Regions from separate parts of the Homo sapiens genome. Here region 1 is linked to region 2. Evidence: fine-mapped expression QTL. A gene starts in region 2. The other region holds a variant in brackets. All regions are shown on one strand. Distances are from middle to middle.

Region 1 (2,922 bases), 63 kb after region 2:
TCCAGGGGCATGCATGACATGCATTCAAAGATGTTGCCCATTTTAGGTATATATACTTCCAAACCACAAAATTATAGAATAAAAATTTGGGTTTTCTATGTTTTAGTTTATATTAACATTTTAAATAAATTAGTTTTGTGCTATCTTTTATATCTTCTGTATATTATTTGTAAAAGTCACTTGAAATTATAAAAAAATAAAATGGGCCTATCTGATGCAGTTGATAAATGGTGATGACTTATTTTTGGGGCATGCTAGGGGCCAATGGGCAATCTTTGTTCCAGAACTCTCACGGGGCTGACAGAGACTTTGGTCTGCATCAGTCTGCTAACTATCCTGCAAAAGACTAAAACCCTCCCTGGTCTTGCTTTCTCCCTTTTCCTTTCATAAGTATTACTCCTTAGGATAACTTTTGATCCTCAAACTCAGTCTCAGCATCTACTCACTGAGAGTCAACCTGCAACAAAACTTAAAGAAATGAAGTGACTTTCCCAGGGCCAGATATCTGGGAAGTGTTGGAACTGAGATTCCAACTCAGGTCTATGCACTCATATTATTTGCAGAAGTCTGCCTGGATTTAGGGTCAGAACTAGTAGAGTCCTCTAGTGGTAGAACTCTACTAGTTACCAAGAAGCCTTAACTTCATCTAGAAACTTCGATTTCTTGAGCCATAGTTTTTTCACCTGTAAAATTAAGGATAATAGTTCCTGCCCTACACATGGCATAGGATTATCACATCAAATGGAGAGCGCAGAGCACTCTGTAAATTGTAATTCCATATTCAAGCATAAGGTTTGATCATTTTTATTGCTGTTTTCTTGCATTTGTACTGTATTAGTTATTCCATAAGACCATATGTTTCTAAACCGGGAGGTCAGCCTAACTTCATCTATTGAAAGGTCCGTCATAGTCCTCACCATTTTTCTATGTACATTTGGTGTTCCATTTGATGTCTTTTCTAAGGGGCTTATCTTTGAAATTTTTATATATAATTATTTACAAAAAAAGATGTAGACCCTATCTATGGATTCTTTCTGATTTAAGTTTGAGGTTGTATTCAGCTGCTCTCACATACCTTAGCTATTAGGGATTGTAGCTCAGTGTCATGGGTGTGAAGAATACGTTTTTCAGTTTCATGATCTCATATCTTGCTGCTTCAGTGGAGAACTGAGCTGGCCATGACTTACTCTGAGCTATAACATCTTGGCAAAACAGAGCTCTGAAATATACCCCTATTTTATTTATACTTATATATTTGACTAGCTACTCTATTAATTGAATTGTTCTTTAGCTTCTTAATAGTTTTGCTTGACAAAAATGTTGCGTTACGTTTATCAACATTCAAATATTAAGACCGGTCGGCAGCTGGGGCAGCATTCCTTACAGTAATTATATGACTACTAGACTATTCCGCAATCTCATTGCCTAATCAAAAGGAACAGAAAAGATTACATTAAAACAGGAAAAATCTATACTTCTATTTTCTCTGATTTTTTTTTTTTCCTAAAACAAACCCTGAAGAAAATGATTGTTTTGGAGGAGAGGTGGAAAAGCATTGAGGCGTGATTCCCTTCTGTGGTGAGTCACTTTCTTCAGTTTGGTTTCATATTCATTTCCAGGCCAGCAGTTGTGAAAGTTTTCAGGGCATTGCCTGTGTCGTTGACCTCCATTTTGCACTCTA[C/G]ATAAACCCAGTTTTGATGCTGGTGTTTTGGAAAAGTGGTTAAAATTGTTTCAAATAAAAATATTTTCCCAAATGTTTTCTATTAAATTACGTGTATTTTTTTTCCCCCTGATATCAAGTCCAGTAACTTCAGGCAAATTTAGTGAAATTCTCTACCATCTAGAAAGGGATGAAGAACTTAAAGGAAGGCAGATGAATTCCTTCCTTTTTTTTTTTTTTTTTTTTTTTTTGAGACGGAGTCTCTCTCTGTCGCCCAGGCTGGAGTGCAGTGGCGCGATCTCGGCTCACTGCAAGGTCCGTCTCCCAGGTTCACGCCATTCTCCTGCCTCAGCCTCCCGAGTAGCTGGGACTACAGGCGCCCGCCACCACGCCTGGCTAATTTTTTGTATTTTGTTTAGTAGAGACGGGGTTTCACCGTGTTAACCAGGATGGTCTCGATCTCCTGACCTCGTGATCCACCCGCCTCGACCTCCTAAAGTGCTGGGATTACAGGCATGAGCCACCGTGCCCGGCCTCCTTCCTTTTAAAATTCAAAAATCTTAATTTTAAAAAGTCTTAACTCAGAGTAGTGGTTTCTTTAAGATCTCGAATGAGTTAGTGATAGTGCTTGAACAAAGATCCAAGACACCTGCACTTTTATTTGTTTACTGACAAGATGAAGATTATTCTTCCTTACATGGCTTTGTAGATTTTGGTGTTGTATCCAAAGAGGAAATTGTATTAAAATATCTGAAAAAACTGGAACCACATCTTCCTGCTATAAGATACAGATTTTAAAGATTAAAGATGGAAATGTTGATAGCTTCAGAATAATTTATTTTGGACAAGGATACATGTAATGCCCATGTTGCTCATATTGTATATTGTATAACAAGGTAATATGAATATTTCAAACTCACTGTGCTGTTTATGATGAACATAGCAGTTAAAAGTTGGTGCTATTGCTTCATTCATTTACAATTTTTCTATCACTCCATTATTCTGCTTATTTATTATTCTTTTATTATTCAATTTATTATTCTATTCATTTATCAATTATTCTATTTAGCTATTTTATTATTGTTATATATTATACATCTTATATATAATATATAAATAAATATATATAATATATAAATGTAAATTGTATATATATATATTTGAGACAGGGTCTGGCTCTGTTACCCAGGCTAAAGTGTTGGGGAGCGATCTTGGTTTACTGCAACCTCTGCCTCCTGGGCTCAAGAGATCCTCCCCCTTTG
Region 2 (2,922 bases):
AAAGTCCCAGCAGAGCCAGCCTTTCGGCAATGCCCTGCCAAAGTGCCAGACACATAAGTGAGCCCAGTCATGCCCCAAGACGATTGAGGTCCCAGATGAGTTTTGGGGTGTTATACAACAATCTGTAACTAAAATAGCTTATTTAGAAATTTAAAAAAATAACTAATCAGGCTGTCTTGAATTTATTTCAGCTGACTTTCTGAGTTATTTGGAAGAAAATCCTCTAAAGTAGTTTCAAATTAAAAGACACTTTAAACAAAACTCACCGTAGTCTTGCTTTTTCATTTGAATTTACTCATTTTGGCCCTGTGACTTGTAAACTAAACTCATATTTCTACTACTGCAAAGTTAAGTGTTTTGTTTATGATTTTTAGAAGTTGTCATCTATTGATTTTTTTCTTCTGTTTGTAAAGGTGAATGAACTATCCCAATGCTTACCTGTACCAGTGACTTTGCTTAATCTAAGATGTTGATCATTCTTTATGAAGGCTGAAAATGTTATCTAGAGGTGAAATTTACAATGGAACTAAAAATGAGTGGCTAATGGAATAAAGGCCTGACATTTTTCTACCAATTTTTTTTTTTAAAATTTTGGGTGATATTCTTAAGTAAACTTTTTGCTGTATTTCAGGGTTTGGAAGATAACTTGAACCCATATATGATAGGTAAACTAAAAAATCCCCTAAATTTCTTAATCTTTGTTTCTAAAATATTTGTTTGTAAATTTGTTTAAAGACTTGAGACCTTAATTACTTGCTGAAGGTGATTGTTACTTTAAAACTAAGTCTATGAAATTAGGATTTAGTCCTTATCTAAGTAGGCTCTCTTTCTCTTTTTTAAATACTTAAATATTACAAGCTTTGTAATGGAAAGAAATGTTTCTCATCTTATAGTACAGAAGCAAAAATCTTAGTGGAGAATCGTTACCAATTTGGGGAATTTCAATGGTCATAATTTATATCATTGTTTCTGAATGCCATGTTCACACACTCAGATGATTTCTATTTATAACAATCTGGTATAAAATGGAACTCGTTAAAAAGATGATAGAAACCTTTTAGAAATATCTCTAGAAAGTGTACATGCTAATAAATCTTACTTAAAGATTTTTCATTTTAAAGATGTTATTTAAATTATCTCTGTAAATAACTCCAATAATATCTTTGAAGGGTATTTGGAATGGTTCCTTCCTGAAGATTGTAAGAGGTTAGAGTGCACCATTTTATGGTATGTTGACCCCATGTTAATGATAGGAACCTCACAATTTATATAAAAATCAAATGCATCAATCAACACTTACTTAATGGCAATTTAACAATATAATCACAGTATTTCCCCCTGTAGTCCCAGTCACACTGCAGTAGAAGCTAAATTCCTTCCCCAATAGATGCTGCATCGAAAAGGAAATACTGTACCTCAGAGAGGCCGGGACAGGAATTGGGTAGACATGGACTGTCTCCTTATTCTGGAAGGTGCCTGTCTGTATGAAATCATTACCTGGATCCTTGTTGAGAGCACCGTCTCTATCTGATTTCTGGTGAGGATCTTTTCATAGTTTGCCCTGATCTCATTGAGTAGCTGGGACAGTTCCATTCTTTTCCCATCCTCCACCTTGGCTAACTGAACCTTATCGATAGGATGAGTCGCTGCGGCAGTCTGCTCGGTCTGCGCGGAAGGCAGGGAGCCTCGCAGAGTTTTAAAGATGCAGAGCTCCTTTTTCGGAGGCCACGGAAATTCTCATCTTTCTAACTAATTATGCAAATACAGGGTAAACTCTTTGCTCCTATTGTTATTGGTATAGTAGAAATGTCAGATTCTTCATGAAGGAAAGGAAAATTTCAAAAACCTGTACTGGTTCCCTGTAAAAATTGAGCACTTTGAGGGGAGGGGGAGTTCATTTTTGTGAAAAGGAAATGGGGCATAACATAAGAAAATTGCCGGGCATGGTGGCTCATGCCTGTAATCCCAGCACTTTAGGAGGTTGAGGTGGGTGGATCACCTGAGGTCGGGAGTTCGAGATCAGCCTGGCCAACATGATGAAACCCTGTCTTTACTAAAAATACAAAAATTAGCTGGGCGTGGTGGTGGGTGCCTGTAATCCCAGCTACTCGGGAGGCTGAGGCAGGAGAATTGCTTGAACCCAGGAGGTGGAGGTTGCAGTGAGCCGAGATTGAGCCACTGCACTCCAGCCTGGGTGACAGAGTGAGACTCCATCTCCAAAAAAAAAAAAAAAAAAAAAAAAGAAAATTATATTTAGTTTTCTCAAAATGTTGCAGATAAGTGCTGGTAGACTATGAGAGTTGTGAGTTAACATTTCCAAAGTTTTAACAAGGATGAAGAAATAGACCTTTTGGTGTATTCACCAAAAGAACCCTTGAGTCCTTTGGAGGGTGTAGTCAGTGTACCATTCCATCCAATCGTTGCAATCACTTGAGCCCTTCGGAGGGTGTATTTGGCGTATCATTCCATCCAATCCTTGCAATCCCTGACATTTTCTAACCTGTAAAGATGAAAAGACTGAGGCCAGAGAGGTTGAGGCATCTTGCCCAAGGTTGCTCAGTGATGTATGACATCACTGGGACTGGCTCTTTGACAACTTGCTTGTGTTCCATGTATTACCCCTGCATATCTGCCTCTGCGTTCTCTCTCTCCCCTTCTAAATTCCTGGTTTAATCTTGCCAGCTGGTTGCTAGATGTGACAGAAATATGTCGTGAGAGTGGATCTATCATTATTGTTATTTGTGGAGTGGCTTTGGCTGAATTGTATCTGGAGCACAGTTCAGGAGATAATCAGACCTGGGTTCTAGCCCTTACAGGGCCTTTGCATGCATGTCCTGCTCTTTTAATTTCTGAATTAACTCACATCTGGCCAGGCCAGTCTATGCTGGGCATTCTCACAGCCCTCTCCAAACAAAGCTGTCC

Direction of the effects. Positions count from the first base shown, and alleles are read on the strand shown. Sizes are in standard deviations (SD) of each study's normalised expression.
For the expression in tibial nerve of the gene that starts at base 1,671 in region 2, allele G in region 1 goes with a higher level than allele C (small effect, 0.27 SD a copy in GTEx).

Evidence for each region. PIP is the estimated chance that this variant, and not a neighbour inherited with it, causes the effect.
Region 1: its variant is fine-mapped to the expression of KRT222 in tibial nerve (GTEx, PIP above 0.99).

Annotation. Positions count from the first base shown.
Region 1 is chr17:40,726,514-40,729,435 of GRCh38, forward strand. No RefSeq gene overlaps it. Among named protein-coding and RNA genes, the nearest start is that of KRT24, 24 kb to the left of the region's middle. The variant C/G (reference allele first, on the strand shown) is at 1,682.
Region 2 is chr17:40,663,507-40,666,428 of GRCh38, forward strand. KRT222 (keratin 222) reads right to left here and starts at 1,671. Exons shown (of 6, transcript NM_152349.3): 1 at 1,498-1,671. The coding sequence starts at 1,593.